Linked DNA regions of Homo sapiens: regions 2, 3, 4 and 5 are each linked to region 1. The links come from fine-mapping of genetic effects on gene expression. A gene starts in region 1. Each other region holds a variant in brackets. All regions are shown on one strand. Distances are from middle to middle. Region 1 holds the start of TTC38 (tetratricopeptide repeat domain 38). Region 2 overlaps TTC38 (tetratricopeptide repeat domain 38). Region 3 has its middle 280 kb from the start of LINC01644. Region 4 holds the start of GTSE1 (G2 and S-phase expressed 1). Region 5 overlaps CELSR1 (cadherin EGF LAG seven-pass G-type receptor 1).

Evidence for each region. PIP is the estimated chance that this variant, and not a neighbour inherited with it, causes the effect.
Region 2: its variant is fine-mapped to the expression of TTC38 in whole blood (INTERVAL, PIP above 0.99).
Region 3: its variant is fine-mapped to the expression of TTC38 in pancreas (GTEx, PIP 0.91).
Region 4: its variant is fine-mapped to the expression of TTC38 in whole blood (INTERVAL, PIP 0.95).
Region 5: its variant is fine-mapped to the expression of TTC38 in substantia nigra (GTEx, PIP 0.91).

Annotation. Positions count from the first base shown.
Region 1 is chr22:46,265,158-46,270,257 of GRCh38, reverse strand. It overlaps TTC38 (tetratricopeptide repeat domain 38), which reads right to left and starts at 2,250. Exons shown (of 14, transcript NM_017931.4): 1 at 2,186-2,250; 2 at 1,667-1,744. The coding sequence starts at 2,218. RefSeq lists silencers at 1,974-2,183, 2,194-2,353.
Region 2 is chr22:46,287,170-46,292,269 of GRCh38, reverse strand. It overlaps TTC38 (tetratricopeptide repeat domain 38), which reads right to left. Exons shown (of 14, transcript NM_017931.4): 11 at 3,682-3,847; 12 at 2,709-2,868; 13 at 2,371-2,444. Among named protein-coding and RNA genes, the nearest start is that of GTSE1-DT, 6.9 kb to the left of the region's middle. The variant T/C (reference allele first, on the strand shown) is at 3,036.
Region 3 is chr22:47,202,928-47,208,027 of GRCh38, reverse strand. No RefSeq gene overlaps it. Among named protein-coding and RNA genes, the nearest start is that of LINC01644, 280 kb to the left of the region's middle. The variant C/T (reference allele first, on the strand shown) is at 2,945.
Region 4 is chr22:46,295,020-46,300,119 of GRCh38, reverse strand. GTSE1 (G2 and S-phase expressed 1) reads right to left here and starts at 3,250. Exons shown (of 12, transcript NM_016426.7): 1 at 3,189-3,250; 2 at 2,641-2,740. The coding sequence starts at 2,719. GTSE1-DT (GTSE1 divergent transcript) reads left to right here and starts at 3,460. Exons shown (of 1, transcript NR_024009.1): 1 at 3,460-4,977. RefSeq lists an enhancer at 2,733-2,842 and a silencer at 2,993-3,192. The variant T/G (reference allele first, on the strand shown) is at 2,266.
Region 5 is chr22:46,414,608-46,419,707 of GRCh38, reverse strand. The region is part of intron 5 of CELSR1 (cadherin EGF LAG seven-pass G-type receptor 1); the gene reads left to right. Among named protein-coding and RNA genes, the nearest start is that of TRMU, 81 kb to the right of the region's middle. The variant C/T (reference allele first, on the strand shown) is at 2,471.

The sequences.
Region 1 (5,100 bases):
CAAGCATTTTGACAAGATACAGGAGGGTTGGCACAGAGATTTAAAGAAGCCAAGTTCTAACACAGGACAGCACAGAGACACCAATACACGGGACAAAATATACCCAGGCTGGGAGGATGAGCTGCCACTGATTGGGGATGTGGTGTGTAACAAACTGAGTACTAGGGGCCGGGCACAGTGGCTCACGCCTGTAATCCCAGCACTTTGAGAGGCCAAGGCAGGGGAATCACAAGGTCAGGAGTTTGTGACCATCCTGACCAACATGGTGAAACCCCGTCTCTACTAAAGATACAAAAAATCAGCTGGGTATGATGGTGCGTGCCTATAATCCCAGCTACTTCGGAGGCTGAGGCAGGGCAATCGCTTGAACCCGAGAGGCAGAGTTTGCAGTGAGTCAAGACTGCGCCATTGCACTCCAGCCTGGGTGACAGGGCAAGACTCCGTCTCAAACAAAAAACAAATCGAGTACTCTACAGAGGCCGGCGAGATACAGGAAGGGCAAGTGAGCCAGGTCAAACACAAAATAAACAAACAACTCAGATGCCCACAGCAGAGTCCCTTGGCAGGGCAGGCTGGGAACAGGAGAGGCACCCATGGCGCAGCTCACAGCATTCCATCAGTCCTCTCTTGTTCAGCCCGTAGGCTTCTAAGAGCTACCTGAGTCCTCCTGTTATGTGGATGAAGTCAGTATGCAGGGGCCTCACCACCCACGCCAAGGTCAGCTTAGGTTTCTATCAGTGCAGTTAGGCCCAGGTTCATCCTGGTTCTGCCTGTAATTCATGGACAACCTTCAAGTCAAGTAGGTTCAACTCTGAGCCTCAGTTTCCCCACTTGTCAAGGAAGCTAGTTGGATCTTACTTCTGAGACTTCTCCTAGTTCTAAAACTATAGGACCCTTCATTGGTAGAGAAATGACTGGTAATGTGGCAGAAGGTCTTGGCACAGCCTAGGTGAAGGCAGTATACTCACAGATTCATCCCAGGACAGGATCCCACGTCCTAAGCAGCCGAGCCCTGCATCAGACCCTCAGCAGGCCACAATGGGAGGCCCGGGGAGGCCAGCATCCTCAAAAAACATCCCCACTGCACCCACCGCTGTCCACCCACCACTCAGAGTCCTGGGGAAGAAGGGAGAGTGCAGAGGCCCTTTTAGGACGCTGTGGGGGGGGGGCAGAGATATGTCCCCACCCTCCCACGTCCTCCAGTACAAAGTGCACAGATGTGCTGCCATCTATTGCTAAGGTCATGGCGCAATTTAAAAAGCTTTCCCCATGGCCGGGCGCGGTGGCTCACGCCTGTAATCCCAGCACTTTGGGAGGCCGAGGCGGGCGGATCACGAGGTCAGGAGATCGAGACCATCCTGGCTAACACGGTGAAACCCCGTCTCTACTAAAAAATACAAAAAAAATTAGTCGAGGGCAGTGGCGGGCGCCTGTAGTCCCAGCTACTCGGGAGGCTGAGGGACGAGAATGGCGTGAACCCGGGAGGCAAAGCTTGCAGTGAGCCGAAATAGCGCCACTGCACTCCAGCCTGGGCGACAGAGCGAGACTCCGCCTCAAAAACAAAACAAAACAAAACAAAACAAAACAAAAAAACAGCTTTCCCCAATTAAAAAACCTTCCCCTAGACCTCCACAGAAGGGGCCGCGGCCTCTCTCGGCAGGCATACCTGGGTCAGCGTGGCATCGAACAGCTTGCAGGCTTCGTTGCTTGTGGTGGAGAGCGGGAGCCTCGCATCCTTCCAGGCCTACAGACGGCAAGAAGGGAATAGCAGTGCCTTCTCTCCAGGAGCCCTTCAAACTTCAACACACACACGTCTCCTGGCCCCTCTGACCTCCACCTTCCTCATCTGTAAAATGGGCTCAGGCTCCCAGTCCTGGGCCGGTTCCAAGGAGCCCCTTACCTTTGCGGGCTTCCCTGCGTCCCCAGCCATGCCCAGTGAGCTACGTTTTTTAGGAGGTCTTGGGGTCTCCCGAGTACCCTGACAGGCGTCCCTTATTTCCCTCGGTGGGGACTCTACAAGAAGGGCCTCGGGTCCCTTCCAGGCGTTGCCGCGGACGCGCCCGTGCGCCCAGGGCTCACCCCACGCCCCGCGCCCGGGCCATGTCTCCCGTTATTCCGCCAGCACCGGGCCACCCCCAGGACCCGGGGCCCGAGGGGGACCTGGTTGGGGGCAGCCTCCGTGTACCTGGCAGTCGCGCAGAGGCGAGGCTGCGGCCATGTTGCGCCGGGTCGGAGTCCACCGCGAGCTCTGGGCACCCGGGCCTTCCTGGGAGTGGGCGGGGCGGTCGCGGAAAGGGGCGGGGCGGGGCGGCCGCGCTCTCCCGCTCGCTCACTGGTGGGTTTCGGACAGACTGGCCCTGGTCCAGGATCCGGGCCCGCCCCAGAGGCCCGACCGGACAACTCTGCAACGCGACGGGTCCCTTGGGAGCAGGGAGCTCCGGGACAGCGGTCACTTTCAAGTTTATGTCGTTGCGGTCGGCAGCTACCCGCGCGCGCACGGCACACACTCACTTGGCGTTCGGGGCCGGCTTCACTGGGTCGTCCCGCCGCCTCCATCCTCCCTTCTCAAGGATTTGCAGCGGAAAAATCGCTCTGTCTCCTGCAGTAGCGGCTTCTCCCTCTGGACTGGCCCGGTCTGGCCCGGCCTGAACTCTGCCATCAGCCACACACCAGCCCCAGTCCAATGGGCTCCCCTAGTTTAATTTGCCCCCGCCCCAGGGTGCACGAATCAAGGGCGTAGAACCAAGTGCACGGGCAGATCTGGCCTTTATTTAAAATGCTATTTTGTTCATCATGGACTTTTTGCATTAGTTTTGATTTTTGAAATATTGCACTGAAGTATTATTTGTTTTATGTGAGAGCTGTAAAGATAAAACTCTTAGAAGAAAACAGAAGTAAATCTTCATGGCCTTGGATTTAGCAATGGATTCTTAGATGTAACACCAAAAGGACAAGCAACAACAACAAAATAGATAAGTTGGACTTCGTCAAAATTAAAAACTTTTCTGAATCAAAGGACACTACTCAGGAAACTGAAAAGATTAACACAATGGGAAAAAACATTTGTAAATCATATATTGGGTAAGAGTCTAGAATCCAGAATACATAAAGAAATCTTGGCCGGGCACAGCAGCTCATGTCTGTAATCCCAGCCCTTTGGGAGGCTGAGTCAGGTGGATCACCTGAGGTCAGGAGTTCAAGACCAGCCTGGCCAACATGGTGAAACCTTATCTCTATTAAAAGTACAAAAATAGCCAGGCGTGGTGGTGCATGCCTGTAATCCCAACTACTTGGGTGGCTGAGGCAGGAGAATCGCTTGAACCCGGGAAGTGGAGGTTGGAGTAAGCCAAGATTGTGCCACTGCACTCCAACCTGGGCAACAGAGCCAGACTCTGTCTCAAAAAAAAAGAATTCTTACAACTCAACAGCGAAATGACAAACAGCCCAAATTTAAAGTGGGCAAAGAATTTGAGGTGACAGTTCTCCAAAGAAGACACACCTTTCCTACAGCGTTTTCAAGGTTCATTCATACTGAAGGAAGAGGCAGACACAAAAGGTAACACTTGTATTAGTGCATTTACATGCATGTCCAGAATACGCAAACATAGAGACAGAAAGAAGATTGGTGGTGACCAGGGACTGAGGGGATAGGGATGATAAGTCACTGAAGCCTTGAACTCCTGGCTCCAGCAATCCTCCCACCTCAGCCTCCCATAAATGGTTACTTTTATGTGAACTTTACCTCAATAAAAGAGAATTTGTCTTGATTATTGAGTTTTTGGTGCCCCTCCACCCTTAAATTTTGCACTTGAGCTGAGTACTAATATGGACTAATACAGTAAATTGGTACCATTAGAGTGGGGTGTTGCCAAAAATATACCTGAAAATGTGGAAGCAACTTTGGAACTGGGTAACAGGCAGAGGTTGGAACAGTTTGGAGGGCTCAGAAGACAGGAGTATGTGGGAAATTTTGGAACTTCCCAGATACTTGTTGAATGGCTTTGCCCAAAATGCTGATAGTGATATGGACAATAAGGTACAGGCTGAGGTGGTCTCAGATGGGGATGAGGAACTGGAGCAAAGGTGATGCTTGTTATGTTTTAGCAAAGAGACTGGCAGCATTTTGCCCCTGCCCTAGAGATTTGTGGGACTTTGAACTTGAAAGAGATGATTTAGGGTATCTGGCAGAAGAAATTTCTAAGCAGCAAAGCATTCAAGAAGTGACTTGGATGCTGTTAAAAGCATTCGGTTTTAAAAGGGAAACAGAGCATAAAAGTTTGAAAAATTTGCAGACCGAAAATGTGATAGAAAATTCCATTTTCTGAGGAGAATTCAAACCAGCTGCAGAAATTTGTATAAATAACAAGCAGCCAAATGTTAATCCCCAAGACAATGGGGAAAAGGTCTCCAGGGCATGTCAGACGTCTTCATGGCAGCCCCTCCCATCACAGGCCTGGAGGCCCAGGAGGAAAAAGTGGTTTTGTGGGCTGGGCCCAGGGTCCCCAAGCTGTGTGCAGCCTAGGGATTTGGTGCCCTGTGTCCCAGCTGCTCCAGCTGTGGCTGAAAAAGGCCAATGTAGAGCTCGGGCTGTGGCTTCAGAGATTGCAAGCCCCAAGCCTTGGCAGCTTCCATGTGGTGTTGAGCCTGCAGTTGCACAGAAGTCAAGAATTGAGGTTTGGGAACCTCTGCCTAGATTTCAGAAGATATATGGCAACACCTGGATGCCAGGCAGAAGTTTACTGTAGGGGGAAGGCTCTCATGGAGAACCTGTGCTAGGGCAGTGTGGAAGGGAAATGTAGGGTTAGAGCCCCCACACAGAGTCCCTACTGGGGCACCGCCTAGTGGAGCTGTGAGAAGAGGGCCACCATCCTCCAGACCCTAGAATGGTAGATTCACCAACAGCTTGCACCATGAGTCTAGAAAAGCTGCAGACACTCAACACCAGCCCACGAAGGCAACCAGGAGGGAGGCTGTACCCTGCAAAGCCACAGGGGCGGAGCTGCCCAAGACCATAGGAACCCACCTCTTGCATCAGCATGAGCTGGATTTGAGACATGAAGTCAAAGGAGATAATTTTGGAGCTTTAGGATTTGACTGCCC
Region 2 (5,100 bases), 22 kb before region 1:
TGAGTTTACAGTGAACTGTGATCACACCACTGCATTCCAACCTGGATGACCGAGTGAGACCTTGCCTCTAAAAATATAAAAAAATTTAAAAAGAAAGAAGAAAGAAGAGACGTGAAAGAATTAGCACTCAAAGGAAAGGTCATGTGAGGACACAGCAAGAAAGTGGCTGTCCACAAGCCAGGAAGAGAGGCCTCAGCAGAAACTGAACCCAGCCAGGCCTTGTTCCTGGACATTCCAGCCTCCAGAACTGTGAGACAGTGCATGCCTACTGTGCAAGCCGCCCAGACTGTGGCACTTTTATTTTTTAATTTTTTGAGATAGAATCTCCCTCGGTCACTCAGGCTGGAGTGCAATGACGCGATCTCGGCTCACTGCAACCTCCACCTCCCAGGTTCAAGCGATTCTCCTGCCTCAGGCTCCCGACTAGCCGGGATTACAGGTACCCACCACCACGCCCGGCTAATTTTTTGTATTTTTAGTAGAGGCGGAGTTTCACCATATTAGCCAGGCTGGTCTTGAACTCCTGACCTCAGGTGATCCACCCGCCTTGGCCTCCGAAAGTGCTGGGATTACAGGCATGAGCCACCGTGCCCGGCCTGTCTGTGGCACTTTTAAAATAACAACCCAAACTGACTAAGACAGCCCCCAAACACCTGAAAACAGTGGTTCTAGAGGGCGTGGGTGGTGTGAAGGGGCTGGGGCCGGGAACTCATTGTGGGGGGCACCATGGCTGTGGGTGGAAGGTTTCCCACCTTGGGGGCTGGTGAGCTGTGCTGATGGCCCCATGGATGCTGCCTGGTAGCAGGACAGGACTTGGAGAGAAGGCCCCCTCCACGTCTCCTAATGCAGTCGGCTCCCTGTGCAGCCTGCTCTCCCCCTGCCCTCCCCCACTGGGCCCCGCAGAAGGCCACATCGGCACTGCCGCACTGCCCCACAGATGTCACCCCAGCTCCATCCTCAGCCCTCCTGTCCACACAGCCACTTTCCCCACCGCTGCTGCCAGAGGCACCAACTCCCACCCACACCACAGCCTGAGCTCCCCAGGGGGCTTGACCACCAAAGAAACACGCATGGTTTTGTCTACAGCCATGGAAGGGGAAAGCGGGGAGCATGCGTCCAAGACATTTTACAGTTCTAGGCGGTTCCAGTGCTGCCAGCCAGACCTGTTTCATGAGTACCACAGAACCTGTACAGCTCAGTTTGGGTAACCCTGCCTGGAGGGAGCTGCGCTGGTGCACCTGCGCCTAAACCACTGGGCTTGTCACCAGCCAAGGGCCTCCTGTGGACCCGGGCTGCCACCTGCTCTCACAGCACACCTTCCCCACCAGGCACCCCATGACTCCTCTATTCTTCCTTTCACTTATGTCTGAGGGTGGCAGGGACATGGGCAAGGAGAGGTGTCAAACTCGCCGCTCAGGCACACGGGCTACGCAGCTGCTGGCCAAGAGCTCAGCAGCCTAAGTGGAGGGAGGCAAGCTGGGCCATGGAAGCACCAAGGCTGCTGGCAATGGTGAGGGCTCTTTGGAGTTCCCCCAGCACTCTCATCTGCCAGCTATGCCACCCTCCTGACACTCGCCTGCCAGCCACACCACCCTCCTAACACTCACCCTCCAGCCACGCCACCCTAACACACCTTCCAGCCACGCCACCCTCCTAACACTCACCCTCCAGCCACGCCACCCTCCTAACACTCACCCTCCAGCCACACCACCCTCCTAACACCCTCCAGCCACGCTGCCCTAACACACTCACCCTCCAGCCATGCCACCCTAACACTCACCCTCCAGCCACGCCACCCTCCTACCAGCCCCATGCCTGGCCTGGCTAAACCCACTGTGGTTTCGGGTCTGCCCTCAGCTGCTGCTCCCTCAGTGCGAGTTTACGTGTCTGTGGGACTGATTGCTCCCTGTCGCTCCCCCGACTACAGATGGGCTCCTGGTAGCCAGTGACTGGTGTGCCTGCTCACTGCTCCCTCTCGGTACCCAGCACAGGCAGGCAGGTGAAATGAGCTGAGGTCTAACTGAGCATTAGGTGTCGGCCAGGTGCAAAAAAGGAGAAAGGGTGTTCCAAGCGTGCAAAGGCCCAGGAGCCTGAAAGAGCAGGACGTGTTTACGTACCCAGGTAGCTTAGCAAGGCTAAAAGGGAGTGGGCTGGGAAGGGTGGGAGGTTGGGCCTGGGGTGGGGCTGGCTCCACTTGGTCACACTGAGCCTGCTAACAAAGGAGAACCAAATTCCCCACAGCCTCCCGACCTCACAGCCTCAGAAGCAGGAGCATCTCGGGCCAAGGGTGGTGGGGCTTCCAGGCACTCCTGAGGTCTGCAGGGAGAGCCTGTGAAGGTCGGGAGTGCTGGGCAGGGGCCAGGAGCTCACCGGGCTACGTTCTTATGGACGCTGGAGGTGCAGTTTAAGGCCGCGTGAATCAGCAGCTGGTTGAAGACGTCTCTCTGAAATGTCAATCGGGCATGTGAGTCTCCTGTACCTCAGGATGGGGGAGGCGAGCCCCCGCCCACCGCGGGCTGCCTGCTCTCCAGGGAGACAGTGGTGTTGATGCCACACCCTCAACGACGAACTTACACGGCGGGAGTGTGAGAGACACGTTCACACCCACATTGTTGGCACCAACACCATGGGAGAAACTTGGGGGCTGCGGGGCGCCCAGACTCCCTGGCCCAGGCCCTAGGCACCCCAGCTGGCGGCCATCGGCTCACCTGGGCATTGCTCCCACCGAGCTGGACGATCCGGTAGCGGATGGGCAGGAGCAGCTCCAGGACGCGGTCAGGGTTCCCGTCCTCAGCCTCCACCAGGGCCTGGCACAGGGGCAGCCCCACGTCTCGGGCCAGGAGGTGCTGGCAGTTCTCCCCTGGGGATCTGCGAACCCAAGACGGTGCCCTCAGCTGCCTGCCCATCACAGAACATCCGGGAAGGGCAGAGCCATTTCTTCCTCAGCGAGGTGTCCCTGGTCCAGTGCCTGACACATGCCACACTGATGAGGTGAGGTGACAGGCGGGGCAGCCCATCGAGGGGACAGGACAGGG[T/C]ACTGAGCTCAGAGCTGGGTTGGAGTTCGCCCACTTCCAGCTACCTGGTCCCCCACCTTCCAGCCTCAGTTTGCTCATCTGTAAGCAGGCATAACAGTGCCAATCTAACAGAACCGTCAGGATTGCTGATAATACAGGCAAAGGCCTGGCACTGCAAGCCAAGGCAATCATCACCCCCGGAAGGGAATGGGCAGGGCAGCCCAGGTCCTCCAGGTCAGCCCTCACCAGCTCTTGCCAGGCATCGCCCTGATTTAGATGGGGAAACTGAGGTTCAGAGCACAGAAGCACCTCGTCCAGGACCTCAGGGCCTGTAAGCAGCAGGTGTCTCTGGCTTCAGGGCTTCACTGTGTCCTCTCCACGGGAGGCAGCCCTGTGACCCTGCGGATCTCATACCCACCCTGGGGATGGAGGCAGCTCTGTGTCTTGGGGCAACCAGTTGTACAGCTGTGGGTGTACACACCTTGGGGGTCTGCACCAGGGGATGCACATCTATAGGGGTGCACACCTGGGAGCTGCCTCCATGGGCATCCCCCCTGCTGCACTCACAGGCGGGGCAGGCACTGAACAGGTCTCAGCATGGCCCTAGCACCCCCTCACCCTCTCGGCAGGGTGAGGACCCCCACCCCGAGAAGGCCCCTCTGCATACTCGCTGGCGTCCCGCAGGGTGGTCAGCAGCTCCTGTGTGGTCTGGGGGTCGTGTGCACCCAGGGATGCCATCAGGAAGTGTGCGTCATTGAACAGCAGGATGTGGTCTCGGCTGTGCTTCCGGGCCACAGGCAGGACATCCTGCCACCGCTGGCCCACAGACACTCCTGAGGACATGGGGAGGAGACCCAGGGCCTGGAGTGAGGCTCTGGGGCATGTCCCGTGCAAGGGCCTCCCTCACGGCGCTTCCCTTGGAGGCCTTGATGACCCTGTCCCAGGTGAGAGGCCGGGGAGGTGGGCAGGGCCACGGGCAGCGTCTGGCCTTGTGCTTAGGCCTCTATCAGGACTGTCTAATTATAGAGGCCATAGACGCGTAAGTAGGAAGCACATTTTAAAAAGTGTCAAAGGTTATTAAACAAAGCCTCTGGCCGCTTTGACAAACCCTAGGCCTCTTGGATCCCCCGGCCTTCCCACACAACCCTTGGCTTCCCAATGGATCCCCCGACCTCCCCAAGGATCCCCCAGGCTCCCCACTTTTCTCTGGGTCTCCAGCCTCAGCCTGCCCTTCCCACAGGTGGGCTCCCTGGCTCCTGTGCCCCTCAGCCTGCTGTTGGCCCATCTGACCACATCAAGCCTGCCCTCCAGCCCCTTGTCCCGCAGCAGGCTGCTGGCTTCTATGTCCCGGTAGCTTTGGATGGTCTGCTTTCTCTGAGAGTAACTCTTTCCCTTGTCTCTGCCCAGCAAGCCCCACATATGCTTCAGTAGCTCACATTTCACCTCCACTAGGAAGCCTTCTGAATCTCTAGAAACAGCCTGCCATGCCCTCCCTCAGGTCCCTGAATTGCTCAGCCCTCATCGTACTGCTGACCCAGGGCCTAGCCCAGGCCTCTGTGGTTCCAGGGTGACTCTGCTGAGCCTGAGACAAGGGGAGAACCATCTGGCACCCCAGTGGTTGGCTAGAGCCCTCAAGAGCCCCCAGAGCTGTGGTTGGTCCCTCCAGGCTACCTGCAGAGCATGACAAGGTTGAGAAACCTGTCTACAATCCCAGGGAGTTGAGAAACTCTCTCATGTTTTAGGAAAGGAGGTGGCATCGAGACAGGTGGCCAGGTGCTACCAGTGCCCCGAAGGTTTGGCAGGCAGGCCAGCCATGGGAACAGCACAGCAGGTGCCGCCCTGGGTGCAGAGCTGGAGGCGTCCACATCGAGGAGCGGTGGGAACTGGAAGAAAGAGTAGTGTGGCCTGGACACCCTCTCCAGCTTTGGGCCAGCTGGGAGGCAGCTGCAGAACGGTACCCAAGGCAGTGGCCAGGCCTGCAGAGGGGTCTGGAGCGGCTCACCCATGAGCTCTTGCCCAACCCTGGGCCTAGGCCACAGCACCCTCTCCTCATGATGTGGGAGGAAGAGGCAGAAGCCAGTGGGGC
Region 3 (5,100 bases), 940 kb before region 1:
GAAATTAGGCAGACCTGGGTTCAAACGCCAGCCCCACTACTTACCAGCTGTGCAAGCTGGAGAGGTTTCTTCCCCTCTCTGAGCCCCAGTCGTGTCCTCTGAGAATGATGGTAATGAAAACCTCTGCTCCCTGTGGGCTGCTGGGAAGATGGTGAGATCCTTTTGATGCATTTAGCCCAGTGCCTGGCACAAAGAAAAGGCTTAATAAAAGTTCTCAACTCTTAGTATTTGTGTCAGTTATCTCCTGCTGCATAACAAAGTACTCCAAAATTTAGCAGTTTAAAACAACAGCAAACCTTTATCGACTTGCAGTTTCTGTGGGTCAGGATCCAGGGTAAGTTCGGGTGGGTGGCCCTGGCTCAGGGTCTCTCCAGAGGCTGCGTCATGACGTTGGCTGGGGCTGCCATCATCTGAGGGTTTGACTGGGGCTGAAGCCTCTGCCTCCAATATGCGCTGCTTGGGGGAGGCCACAGTTCCTCACAGGATGACTTCCACAGGCTGCTCGAAGGTCCCACACCACAGCAGCAGGAGCCCTAGAGCAAGTGATCAAGAGAGGACAGAGGGGAAGCCACAGTGCCTTTTCTGACCTGGCCTGGGAAGTTCCTCACTGCCACTTCTTCCATATTCTATGTGTGAAGAGAGTAGGAAATTAGCCTCTGTTTCTTGGAGGGAGGAATGGCAAAAGACTATGGTGGACGTTTTTTAAATCCACCACGTCATTGCTGGAAGAATGAGACCAGACCTCAAGGGAAGAAAACAAGGAAATTGTCTAGAAAAGCCCATGAAAGAGGCAGAAAATAACTGAAAGTGACTCGCAATTTTCTTTGCTACTTCCAGCCAAGAGCATTGTTCTCACCAGCCCAGCTGACTGACCCTTTAGGTGACAGAACCACATCACCCCAAACTTTTTCCCGGGCACAAAAGCATTCTGAGCTACATCCATGTGTGGGTCTTTGATACTAGAACCAGCACTTCCAAACCACCCGGAGTCCAACACCCATGATGCAGGGCAGGCAGGCCCACAATTGGGGCTTAGTCTGGGAGGGTCCTTGGCTTTACCCAGGAAAGAATTCAAGGGCGAGCTGGTGGTGTTAGACAGCAGTCTTTATTGAAGTGGTACCAGAGGTGCTGCTCCTTGCAGAGCAGGGCTATCCCATGGGCAGTGTGCCCAGAGCGGCAGTTCAAAGGCAGTGCTGCACCCACTTTTTTTTTTTTTTTTTTTTTTTTTTGTGAGACAGAGTCTTGCTCTGTCACCCAGGCTGAAGTGCAGCGGCACAATCTCGGCTCACTGCAACCTCCACCTCCCAGGTCCAAGCAATTCTCCTGCCTCAGCCTCCCGAGTAACTGGGATTACAGGCGCCCACCACCATGCCTGGCTAAGTTTTGTATTTTTACTAGAGACGGGGTTTCACCATGTTGGCCAGGCTGGTCTCGAATTCCCGACCTTAAGGTGATTTGCCTGCCTTGGCTTCCCAAAGTGCTGGGATTACAGGCGTGAGCCACTGTGCCTGGCCTGGACTCATATTTATACCCACTTTTAATTACATGTAAATTGAGGGGCACTTTATGCAGAAATTTCCAGGAAAAGGATGATAACTTCTGGGCTGTTGCCATGGAAAGGGGTGGTAACTTCCAGGAGTTGCCATGGCAATGGTAAACTGACATGGCACCGGTGGGTGTGTCTTATAGGAGGTGCTTTAGGCTCTTCCCTGTTTTAGCTAGTCTTCAATCTGGTCCAGAGTCCAAGCCCTGCCTCCTGCCTCCCGCCCTGGAGGGCACTTTCCTGCCACCTCTCCATTTTCCATTAAATAATGGAATAATTCAGTAATTCCATTGAATAATGGAAAATGATGAAAAGGACTGGAATATCCAGGCTGGAGTATCTTCCCAGGATTCTGAGGGAGGGACTGAAACCAAGCGAATTATAACATCTCCCCCCAAGAGTCACTCAGGGATCCTCCTGCAACAGGAGATGGTCACATTCCTTTAACTGTGGCCTCCAGCCTTGGGAGGTGTTATACGCCCATTTCACGGATGGAAAAATAGAGGCTCCAAAAGGCCTGGCAAGTTGTCCAAAGCCACACAACGTGGAGTGCAAGAGCCTGGCCGAGTTCGAGAGGCCCTGCCACCAGCCTGGGTTTCCACACCACCCACGTCCATCCCAGGCTTGCACAAACCACATCTGCCATGACCAGATGATGTCCACGGTAGGGACGGAGCCCGTGAATGCACAAACCCACACCAGGGGCTAAGCGCAGCTGTCCTGGGGGACCACAGCAGCCATGCTCTCCTCCCCGTCCCCTGCCTGCCATTGCACCACCGCCCACCACCTTGCAGACACTGCTGCAGAGGCCTGCCCCTGCCTAGAGATGGGCCATGGAGAGGGCACCTGGGCTGTGAGCACATTAGAGACAGGTGCCCACACCAAAACCCTGCAGAGCTCAGAGGGTCCCTGATCAGGGGAAGGCAGGGTCACGTCTGCCTTCCAGAAGTGTCCCTGAAGTGCCCAGGGAGGGAAAGTAGCCTCAGCAGGGAGGCTGGGGAAGGAGGGTGACATGGGGGAGCCTGGGAGGGAGGGTGACATCGGGGAGCCGGGGAGGAATGAAGAGGGGAAAGGACAAGTGGCCCTGCCACACAGGACCAAGCAGTGCGAGGAGACCCACAGGGCGGGGGCCCAGCCTTCAAGAGAGCCCAACAAAAGAACGGGGTGTGTGTTTGGGCCGAATGGGGCGAGTACCAGAGAGGGCTGCTCCAGGCTTGGGGGCTCCGTGATGTGTGAGCTTGGAGGTGGCCAGGAACGGAGGCCCCGTCAGGATGTCTCAGCTTCTGGGGGTGGCCGTGGGCTGAACAGGAAAGTATTTTGAGCGTCCCCACAACCCGGCAATGTTCACCAGCCCACTGGACACTCTGACCCCACCCCAGGCAGGCATCCCTCATCCCTCAC[C/T]TGTGGCTCCCACTAGTAAGGAGGACCCAGCCACTCCCTCCACCTCTGCTCTCTCTCCGTCACCCCACATCTAACCCTGAGAGATCCCCTGCTCTCTCCGTCACCCCACATCTAACCCTGAGAGATCCCCTGCTCTCTCTAGCTCACCCCACATCTAACCCTGAGAGATCACCTGCTCTCTCTCCGTCACCCCACATCTAACCCTGACCGATCACCTGCTCTCTCTCCGTAAACCCACATCTAACCTGCCACCTGAGGGCTCGCTGCTCTAGTGTCCAGCCCGAGTTCCCAAGTCAAAGAATCCCATCAGTCTAAGAACACACAGTGAACACCCGCTGTGTGTCCAGCATCCTTCCAGGCCCTGAGATACGACAGTGAACAAAAGGGGCCAACACTTCCGAGGAGAACACCCTGAGCAAACAAGCAGCATGGCTGGCAGCAATGGGCACACAGGGGACAAAGCTGCAGGGCGGAGGGATGGGGAGAACAGGCTGGGGTCCACTGAGATGGGCCAAGCACAGAGGAACTCCAAAAAGGCAACGCTGGGGCAAAGAGCTGACAAGACAAAGGGGCGAGCCCTGTGTGCCTGTGGGGAGGAGGGTCGCAGGCGGAGGGCAGAGTGAAGGCCGGGACCGGAGGGTCAGGTGTGGCTGAGAAGTGGCAGGATGGCCAGTGGGCCACTATTGTGAAGGGAAGCAGAGACACGGGATAGAATGGGGTGGAAACTGGTGAGGCGGCCTGTTTGGATGCTGATGGGAGTGGCCCAGGAGAGGAAGAAATATTCCTGATGCAGGACAGAGAGGGGGACCACAGCTGGAAAGGAGTCCCGGAATAATGCCAAAGAAAAATGATTCGCTGGACGCTTGTTAAAGACAGCAAGGCGGATGCCACTCCAGCTCCTGCTGTAGGGGAGACTCGTGCACAGAGCTGAGCTCAACTCCCACTAGAGCAATGCCGTCGGGGCACACAGCCAGCAAGCGGAGCGGGGAGACGGGAGCGTGCAGAGTGAGGAGCTGACCTCACCAGATATCAAGGCTGGGGGATAAGGGACTTCATCTGATTTCAGAGTGTGTAGATTCTTCATAAGTGGGCTTAGGGGGGTCTTTGCTGAAACAGGTTCAGCCCACCAAGGGCAAAGCTTCTTCAGAGGAGGACTCCGAGGAGGCCACTCCAGCACGGGCAACGAGGGCATCCTTGTCACTAGGTGAGAAGAGACAGGCTTCTGTGCGGGAGGGAAGGGGCCGGCCTTGCTGGAGTGGAGCCAATTCAGGGCAAGGTGGAGACCCCTGAGTACACAGGTGGGCTGAGGAGCACGTTCATTGTTGCTGGCCCTGGGGACACAGCAGCTGCCTCACTACCATGGAGACAGGGATGCACCCGTGGACGGCTGCCCAACCAGGCCTTGCCTAAGTCCCATCTGCCATGGCCAAAAGGCAGCATCTCAAGGTCACCAAATGGGCCTCTCCTTCCAGGGAAACAGGTTTCTCTCTTCACTGTCATTCCGGGGGTTCACGCAGATGCTGGCCTGGCAAATGCTAGGGGCCTGCAGGCTGACACCTTCCACATGTTTCATGTAAGAGGCTCCCCCAGCTCTGTCCTCCACGGTTTCATGGCTTTTATCAGCACCAGGATGAGAGTCTTCCAAGGATGCTGGGCTGTGTCCGCCTTGAGACAGGACCCCATACGGACATCTGTGGGCCATGAGCAGGGAAATGAAGGGAAGAGGGTGCCAGCTGCCTTCCCTGCCAGTCCCAAACATCTACCCTGAAATCAGACACAGTGTATGGATGTTGCTACCCCTGCCAGAACCCTGCATGTGGCACCCAGAAACTCCGATGTGAACTTCATGCAGTTCATTAGAATCAGGCCCTACCACTGCAGCCCTTCTTGGGAGCATTTTCATGAAAGAAAGCCATTCCCCAGCTTCCCAAATAACAACCAAGCACGGCCCCCACGCTGGAGGCTGTGGGTAAAGGGAGTCAGCTCATTGGCCCCCTTTTGGGGCGTTAAGGGCACGAGTTCCTGAAGTTCCTGCCTTGCTAACTGGAGGTCCCTGTCTCCAGGGTATTTACCGCAGGTCTCCAAAACCTGAGCCTGGCTGACCGGGACGCCTACCCCCGGGACCATCTCACTACTGTCACGCTGCTCATCACAGC
Region 4 (5,100 bases), 30 kb before region 1:
CTCAAAAAGAAAAAAAAGGCTGAGCACAGTGGCTCATGCCTGTAATCCCAGCACTTCCGGAGGCCCAGGCGGGCAGATCACGAGGTCAGGAGATTGAGACCATCCTGGCTAACACAGTGAAACCCCATCTCTACTAAAAAAAAAAAAAAAAAAAAAAAAATTAGCTGGGCGTGGTGGCGGGCGCCTGTAGTCCCAGATACTCAGGAGGCTGAGGCAGGAGAATTGCTTGAACCCAAGAGGCGGAGGTTGCAGTAAGCCGAGATCACGCCACTGCACTCCAGCCTGGCCAACAGTGAGACTCTGTCTCAAAAAAAAAAAAGAAAAAGAAAAAAGAAAAGAAAAGAGCTTTATAATCTAACTTGTGTTTTTAAAAGGTGACGTTACTGTGTAGAAAGTGTATCCGAAAGGAAGCAGATAATATCCCCTGACATTACAAATGCACATATTAGCCAACGGGAAGTAGAAGCCGGTGAGACAGCGTGGCTGAGACCCAGACAGCAGCATGTGGATGGAGATGGAGAGTCTGTAGATGGATTCAGGATATCTTCTGAAGGTGGAGAAGACGTTAGCTGGTGATGGCATGAATGTAGGAGGTTCTCAGCTTGCACAGCTGGGTGAAATGGAGAAATAAAATGGGTGATGAGAAAGACAAAAAGAACAGGGTATGCAGATGCAGAGGGGGTATGCCAAGTTTGAGATGAGACGTGCATGTGAAGACGCCAAATAGGCAGGTGAATATACAAGCCCAGAGCTCGGAGGAGAGGCTGCGCTCAAGACAAAACGTGGGTGCCGCAGAGAGCAGATACGCTGCACAGCTATTGGAATGCTGACCGCCCTGAGGGCGAAAGCACAAAGCGGTCCCAGAGCAGGTCTTGGGGAAATCAGCCTCAGAAGACAGCAGAGGGGGAGCCCCCGACAGAGAAAAGATACACCAGCCAGAGAGGCAGGAGGAAAAAACCAAGAGCGTCTTGGACTCCAAGCAAGGGAAGTTTCCAGAAGGACGAATGTTACTGAAAAGCTGACTGGCGATAGAAAAGTGAAAAGAGATTCAGCAATGTGGAAGTCGTCAACGACTGATGAAAGCAGCTTGAATGGAGTGGTAAGGACAGAAGCCGGAATGGGAGGGATTGAGAGGCGGAAAAAAATGGCATAACAAGTGAGAAAGCTCTCAAAGTTTGGCTTGGAAGGAGAAACACAGCAATGGAGAGGCAACGGAGGAGACGTGGCGACAAGTGAGACAAGGGAACATTATCTGTATGTGGATGCGCATGATCCAGTAGTGGACAGGGGAAAAGTAAGGAAATGAAGTCAGGTCAACGGAAGTGGGGAAGGCCTCAAGAAGGAGCAGGGGGTGCAGTATGCACGTGGAAAGGACATATTTGAAAGGAAGGACATGACAGGAAGGAGGAGAGGGGTGCAGAGGCAAGCGCCTTGCTAGATATGAAGATGCAACATTGATTTGTAAAGTCTCCAGGACAGTTCCTGCAAAATGGAGGCATTGAGGATGCTTGGGGCCAGGCGCGGTGGTTCACACCTGTAATCCCAGTACTTTGGGAGGCCTAGGCAGGTGGATCACCTGAGGTCAGGAGTTTGAGACCAGCCTGGCCAACATGGTAAAACCCCATCTCTACTAAAAATACAAAAATCAGCCAGGTGTGGTGGCGGGTGCCTGTAATCCCAGCTACTCGGGAGGCTGAGGCAGGAGAATCGCTTGAACCCGAAAGGCAGAGGTTGCAGTGAGCCAAGATCATGCCACTGCACTCCAGCCTGGGAGACAGAGTGAGACTTGGTCTCAAAAAGAAAGGATCCTTGGGTAGTGTGAGAAAACTACCCAAGGGATGTCAAAATGCTTTGTGAGGCTGGGTGAGGTGGCTCACACCTATAATCCTAGCACTTTGGGAGGCCGAGGCAGGCAGATTGCCTGAGCTCAGGAGTTCGAGACCAGCCTGGGCAACATGGCAAAACCCCGTCTCTGTTAAAAATACAAAAATGAGCCAGGTGTGGCAGCGGGTGCCTGTAATCCCAGTTACTAGGGAGGCTGAGGCAGGAGAATCCCTTCAACTCAGGAGAGAGAGGTTGCAGTGAGTACAGATCACGCCTTTGCACTCCAGCCTGGGTGAGAGAGCGAGACTCCGTCAATAAATAAATAAATAAATAAATAAAAACGCTTTGAGAGAAAAAGAGGGTGTGGCCTGTAACTCATTCTGTGAAGCTGTACCCTCACCTTGATACCCAAACCAGTCAAAGACACAAGAAGAAAGGGGT[T/G]TGGGGCCAGGCTTACTCATTAACATGGTCTCAAAGATCCTAAATAAGTCTTAGCAAACAGAAACCAGCGACAAACAAAAAAGAAAACATCGAATTCAATACAATAAATATTTGAGAGCCCACAAAGTGTTAGGTGCTGTTCAGGGCATGGGAGCACTGCGGTAAATAAAACGGATGAGAATCCTGGCTGTGATGAAACTTAAAATGGGGAGGAGGTGAAAGAAAACCAGAAAACGAAGGCAGATGTCATGTGTTTCACAGGTGCAGAGTACAAGTCGAGCACTTGAGAAAGAATTTCTCAGGGAAACATTAAATCACCCTCCATCTCTACTGAACATCCTGAACAACAACAGCGCCGCAGCAGCAAGGACTTGCCTTCCTTCTTAGGGTCATCCATGTTCACGTCCCCTGCCCGGCAGGCTGAAGGCTCATCGCGGCCGCCGCCTCCTTCCATGGAGAGAGCTGTCAGAAGTCACTGCAGGGTGGAACGGGGCCAGAAAGTGAGTACGTGTCAGGGCCCAGGGCTCCGGCTTCCTTCAGCCCTCGGCTCACAGAGGCAGAGAGAGCTGAAGGCCGCGGCCAGGTCTGGGAGAGGCGGCGCGGGGGCCGCTCTGAAATGATCGCATCCCAGGGGACCCCAGGGCCCGAGTGCCGCCAGGCCGGGAGTCAGCCCGAACGCCATCAGACGAGATAACGGAATTCTCGGCTTCTGGGCCAGAGTGTTGGGGGCTCTGTTTGCCTGGGGGGCAGCCCTAGACCTCCCGGCATCCCCGACCACGGCGCGAGGGGCCTCAGTGACCCCTGCTCGAGCCCAGGCCCGGCTCCTGGCGGGGCGCGGCCCCTCCCCGTCCCGAAAACGGCGGGCACCGCGCCGCACCGGGCCCACCGGGCAAGCCTCGCCCCCGACCCTGACCCCACCTTACCCAAAGCGGCAGACGATGCAGGACGCGCCTCCGGCACGGATTTAAACGCGGCGCCGGGAGACGCGGGTTGCCGATTGGTCGGTTTGAAAAGGGCTCCGAGAGGCGGCGGGCTGGGTGCGTCCTGGGTATTGTAGTCAGGACGCTGGTAAGAAGCGTCCAGTGCGCATGCGCACTGCTTCAGCGCAGCGAATGGCTCCGCACAGCGCCAGGGATCACCCACCCGGAAGTCTGCCCGGCCTGGCCGCCAAGTGTCACTAGGTATCCGCGTCAAGCCGGAACCATGTATAGCAGCTCCTTGTGTGTAGGGAGAAAGTTAAAACTGCCATCTAAGGGTGTCGATGGGAAGACTAAAAGTAGGCTCACCCACCTGCTGTGAAGCAGCGCGCGCGAGCTGTTACTAACAGTAGTGAAAAGCCGGGATCCCTGCCCCCGAGGCACGCACTGGGGCGCCGGCTGACCCAGAGACCTGAGGGAGACTCATTGCCGGAGCTGCACAGCCTGTGGGGCTGGAGGGGAACCGTCGCCCTTGGCGGGCTTCCCCAACCGCCAAGGCCTGAGGACCGCCGAGGGCGTGGCGGGAGCCTGTCCTCGGTTTTACAGGCCGGCTGGGGAGCTGCGTTGGAGGAGAGAGCCAGGGGCTGGGGCCCGGTGATGGAGCCTGCCTTGGGGAGTGCATGTGTTGGAGAGAGGTGGGAAGCAGATAGGATAACCCTGACCTGAGCCATGGAGACGCAAGGACAGGACTGGTAGACGGGTCAGTGGGCAGCAACTTAAGACTGACCTCGCTTGAGCCTTTGCCTGCGAACGAGGTATAATACCCACCTCGGGGGCTTGAGGATCAAATGAGGGGCTCCACCCACGGCAAAGTGTCACTAAGCGGGATGGAGGAGGATGCAGGAAGAGGAGTCTGGGAGGACCCGCTCTGAAAAGGATGGAACTCGAGAGCACCATTTTCAGGGACGAAGATAAGCTGTTTATTTGGGGCAGGCTGTGGGGAGAGCTGTGCAGCAAACAGCCACCCGGGGCCCAGGGCAGAGGCCTTCCAGGCTGGCTCGGGCACTTCTGGGTCCCATGTCCCTGGTTTTGCATCATCCATACCAATCACTCCATGTTGCTATGTTCCTTCACCAGAAGACTGGGGGCTCAAAAAGGGCAGGGCAGCCCTCACTCACCAGTCTCCCCAGCCTCACCCAGCTCAGCACAGGGCACCAGGCAGGGGCTGAGAGTGCTGGGGTAGGTGGGTGTGGTCAAACAGCTTGGAAAGAGTTTGGCCTGCTCATTGCATTCCCCTCAGCTCATCCTGGGGATGTCTGCTCATGGGAGAATGGCAGAGGGATCCCCAACAGTCATTCCTGATACTCCTCTCCCTGTATCATGTCAGCACATAGTAGGTGTGGCCTATGTATGGCAGATTCATTTCTGCCCCCAATAGGATTTGCTGTAGTTTGGATGTGTGTCCCCTCAAAATCTCATGTTGAAATGTGATCCCAATGTTGGAAGTGGGGCCTGGTGGGAAGTAATTGGGTCGTGAGGGCAGATCCCTTATGAATGGTTCAGCACCATCCCCTTGGTGATGAGTTCTTGCTTAGTTCACACAAGATCTGGTTATTTAAGAGTCTAAGACCTCCCCTTCTCTCTTACTCCTGCTCTCACTATGTGATATACTGGCTCCCCATCACCTTATGTCATGATCTTAAGCTTCCTGAGGTTGCACCAGAAGCAGATGCCAGCACCATACTTCCTGAAAAGCCTGCAGAACTGTGAGCCAATTAAACCTCTTTATAAATTACCTAGCGTCAGGTATTTCTTCATAGCAATGCAAGAAGGCCTAATACAGAGTTTGACTTCATTTATTTATGCCTTCATTCACCAACTTTCACTGACAGCTACTCAGTGCAGGCCATGTGCCAGG
Region 5 (5,100 bases), 150 kb before region 1:
GGGCGAGTGTACACATTTTTGGTAAGCTTTTTTGCTTGCTCAGAAAAGTCATTTTCGAGGGAACTGTAGCCCACCTGCCATCCTTCCTGAAGTTTTCTCCTGTTTTTCCCGGGACACTCAGGCTACTGTGTTGTGGGGGCTGAGCTCAGAGGCCCCATCCCAGGCACTCTGTCCCGGTGCCCGTGTGGAGGAGGCAGGCCCCGGGAGGCTGCAGCTCGGAAGTGTGCGTTCCTCCTTGTCCCGCTTGTCAGGATTTCTCTAGCTGGGAGTAGCATTAGGATTGAGATGCCTCCCACCCATAGAGGAACATGAGTGAGCTTCTTGTTGAGTGCTTGAGGAGGGTCCCTCAGGTTGTACCAAGCAACTTTTTGCCTATAAAATCCCCAAGAGAAGGAACGTGTTGCTTTCCAAGAAGGCGCTGTATCTCACTGCATTTTGGCCCTTCATTTGTCATTGGCAAGAAGACCCCCCTCTGAGCAAATCCCCATATAATTCCCAGGCTCCCAAAACACCTGGGGGAGTAGCCTGGCCGCAGAGGTGACCTGGTCCCGATGGCTGAGCCCCAAAGGAGCAGGGCTGAGATGGCCCTGGCTTCCTCCCATGGAACTGGGGGCTTTGGTCCAGGGTCTGGCTCAGTGGGGGCTGGCACGGTGCCCTGCTGGATCATTTCCAGAACAAAATTAACTACCACGGGGATCATGGAGCTCTGTAGGAGGAGCTTATCTCCGTCCAGTGCTGAACACGCATGCCCAGGGGACTCCTGCCTCCGGACCCACGGTTCTTGTGTTTCCAAATGTACTGTATACGTCCATCAGGAAAGCACAGAGCTCCTCACTTTTGTCTTTGGCCAGAATCATCGGGGAAACGGGTTAGACCCCCTTGCCTGAGAAATAAAAGGCTTTGTGTGATTTCTTTAAGAATCTCTAGGTGACCGGTTGGTTCTGACCTTTGTTGAAAACTTTTCTAATGCTCCCACAATAAGCCTAATAGCACCGTGCATTACTTTCTTGGATAGTTGAATAAATGGAGGAAATGGCGGGCCAGTGCCCGAACTCCAAGCTGCAGGTGGCTTTGCGTCTTAGCTCCTGGAGAAGAGCCTGCGGGTTCAGCGGAGAGGCTAATTGCACGAGTTGCTTACTTGCTGCTTTTTTCTTTAAAGATGTAAAAATCAACTTTATGATTTTATGTTATATTTTATTTTAATTTATTTATTTATTTATTCTGAGGCGGAATCTTGCTCTGTCGCCCAGGCTGGAGTGTAGTTGTACAATCTCGGCCCACTGCAACCTCCGTCTCCCGGGTTCAAGCGATTTTCCACCTCAGCCACCCAAGTAGCTGGGATTACAGGCCCCCACCACCATGCCTGGCTAATTTTTTTTGTATTTTTTCAGTAGAGATGGGGTTTCACCTTGTTGGCCAGGCTGGTCGCAAACTCCTGACTGCAAGTGATCCGCCCACCTCGGCCTCCCAAAGTGCTGGGATTACAGGCGTGAGCCACTGCGTTCAGCCCCTGTATTATGTTATTTTAATATAGGGAAGTATTAAAACAGCAAAACTTGAGAAAACCACTTGCATGTTATTTTGCTTTTCTTCACATCTTTTCAAGAAGTAACAATAGCAGGCATGGCTGCAAGCACTTCACACATGTCATTCATGTCGTCCCACGAGGAAGATGCTATTTTTACCCCCAGTTGTACAGCCAAGTCCTGGCATGCAGGGAAGTCATGTGACTTTCCCAAGTAGGGGCAGGATATGGACCCTTGGCTTTAAGGAGGTGATGTCCATTGGATGCTGTGGACACTGCTGTCCTGTGAGCCCCCCGCCGGCCTTGGGCCCGCCCAGCTGGACTCTGAGTTGAGAATGAGGATGATAGTAATATCAGCCACGCCAGCTCAGACACTGCACAGTTTCAGATCCGTCCTTTCATTTCATTCCCAAACAGCCCTAGAGATAGCAGCTATGCACTTACCCCCTTTCTAGAAGAGTCTGCCTAGGCTCATAGAGTATGTCTTCTGCCCCAGGTCCCTGGCAGGTGAGGGATTCAGGAGCACCTGTCCCCCTCAGCCAGAGTTGGGCAGAGGAACTTGAGTTCCCCTTACAACCTGGGATAGTGTGGAGCTGCCCTCCCCACCCGGTGGCCCAGTGGCTCAGTTGGGCTTCCAGACGGTTTGCTGCTGACAGCCCTGGGGGAATACCGCACCCTTCGAGCCAGGTCATCAAAAGCAGCCGGCAGCCCCTGTGTAGAGGGTGGCTACCTGGCGGAACAGGGTCCTGTTACCTGCCTAGGGGTATTGGGACCACCAGGAAGTAGCAGCTCGGTCTGAGGTTTGCATTCTGGCAAAGTCCTGTCCGAGGCTCCTGGGAGGCCAGTTTGAATTCTGGAAGGCTGCGTGCATCTGCGTGAATTTGCTCCTCGTGACCCTTCCCACCACTTTCCCAAGCAGCTTCGGAGAACTGCAGTGGCTGCCTC[C/T]GAGGGAGAGCTTGTCGTCTCCATGCCAGAACTGGCACGGGGTCTTGCCCACATTTCCTGGGGCATTTGTCGGCCAGACAGGCCTGAACTTTGTCATCTTGAGAAATGACAGCATGGAACGTTCAGCGCTGCAGTTTGACTCTGTACAGACATTCCTGAGGTCCAGCCATCTGTGAATTCTTTGATATGAACGTTGGTTAATCATTTCTGACACAGAGCATGAATTCATTCATTTCCTAAGACGTGCCCCTCCCACCCCCCCACACCGCCTTCCCCTGCTACCTTCCCCAGCATTGAAACCGTACCCCCACCGGCCTCCCAATGCAGAATCGTCTGCAGCAGGTTAAAAGGCTGGAGAAATGTGAGCACTTCGTAAGGACCAAATGCTTTTGTGCGCACACAGAAACTCCCAGCACTGCGTAGAGCGGCTGAGTGGAAGCCAAGGAGGAGGGCCTGCACGCAGGGAAGAAAATACCTCGAAGGAAAATAAGAAGAGGCTGGACCCCGGGGATGACTCCTGGAGCAGGATTCCGGATCTGCACAGCTTAGCGCTTCTGGGCCACTCCTTGCAGTGCTCAGCGGCACTGTAGGTTTTTTCTCAGGTGGCTGCAGGAGTGAGCATGTGGCTTTTCCTTGCTGGCTCTGTTTCCGCCTGCCCCAGGGAGCCTGTGCTGGCCAGGGTTGCCCGCCGAGGGGTGTAGAGGTACCGTGGGCAGCCCCTGCTGTCTCCAGTCACTGTGTGCGCTGCCTGCCTTGCTCGGCCTGAGTGACCAGGTCCAGCTACTGAGCTTTATGTCCTGGAAGCGAGGCCTGGGAATTGCCTTTCCTGCAAGGGGTGTTGGTGCAGGGGTTGGGGGGGGTCCTCTGGGCCTGGCCGGCTGCTGCGCAGTACCCAGCTGAGCCCTGGAAGGGCAGGTGCCGGGGCGCTGGGGCCTCCACCGTGCTGGCCTTGGCCCATCCTGTGCCCGGCGCTTTCCAACACAAGAATTGAGAAAAAACTCAGACACAACCCTGTGGCCCCCTTCATTCCCACGCTGTCTTTTTCTTTTGTATAAATATGTGGCAAACTTTAAAAATTCCTCTTAGAAATGTGAGGAGGCGGTTCGTCTGTCTCATTCCTTATCCGCCCCCCTCTGCAACCTGTACCATTCATCGTCAGCTGTGACCCAGCCAAGCCACCAAGTGCTTTTCCTGGCTGGAAAACTCAGAGGCGGACACGCCACCCCACAGTCGGGAGCTGTTACCACCACGTAGTCTTTTCTCTGCCGCCGCCTCGTGCTCCACGCCGGCCTTTCAGCGGAGACGCACTTTGTCTTCCTTTGACAAAAATGGATGATCTGAGCCCAGATCACACACATCTGCTGCTGTTTTCACTTATCCCTATTCAAGCCGCCTGTGTAATTGTCCATGCGCCTCTCGACCCCTCCTGGAGAATGTTCACCTCTCTGACTGCGTTTTATCACTCATAGCCACCTGGCAGGAAGGCCAAATAATGCATTTTCTCTCCATGTCAGGGAAAAATTGGAAGGATCTTCCCGAAAGTTCTTCAGGTGGAGAGTGGCAGGGGGCTGGTGAGGGGGGATGCCCACCCAGGAATCTTTTTTTTTTTTTAATTTTTTCCTTATTGAGGTGAAGTTCACATAGCATAAAATTAAGCTTTAAAGGGGCTTCTAGTATATTCAGAGTATTGTACCACACCACTTCTATTGAGATCTAAAATGTTTTCATGCCATCAGTTAACCAATAGTAACTTTTTAAAAAATAATAAAATATTTTCATCACCCAGGCTGGATGGTACGGTGGCTCATGCCTGTAATCCCAGCACTTCGGGAGGCCGAGGCAGGTGGATCACTTGAGGTCAGGAGTTCGAGACCAGCCTGGCCATCATGGTGAAACCCCATCTCTACTAAAAATACAAAAATTAGCCAGGTGTGGTGATGGGCACCTGTAGTCCCAGCTACTTGGGAGGCTGAGGCAGGAGAATCGCTTGAACCTGGGAGGCGGAGGTTGCAGTGAGCCGAGATCATGCCACGGCACTCCAGCCTGGGTGACAGAGCGAGATTCCATCTCAAAAGAAGTATTTTCATCACCCCATACCATTAGCAGTCACCCCCCATCCTCCTCCCTGAGCTCCTGGCAACATCTGTCTGCTCTGTGTCTGTGGATGTGCCTGTCCTGGACATTGTGTAGGAATGGAGTCACGCGGTGCATGGCCTTTCGTGTCTGGCTGCTTTCACTGAGCGCGATGTGTTCCGGGACCCCCGCACCGTTGTGTGTCAGCGCTTCGTGCCTTTCGGTGGCTGCGATTCCGGTGCAGGGATGGGCCACAGTTTGCCCACTCATCTACTGATGGACATTTAGGTGGTTTCCACTTCTTGTGAGTTGTAAATAGCAACGCCGTCAACACTCATGAACTGGTTTTTGAGTTCCTGTTTTCAGTTCTTTTGGGTACACGCCTGGGGCTGGTGGTGCTGGGTCATGTAGTAGTTCTGCGTTTAATGCTTTGGGGACCCCCGTCTGTGCGTCTCAGGTCACCCACAGCACCGTGTCCATGCACTCCCTGCCTCCGTGACACTTGCTGGCCTCAACTGCAGAGTGGACGGTTAGCCTGCGCGTTAAACCCACACTCG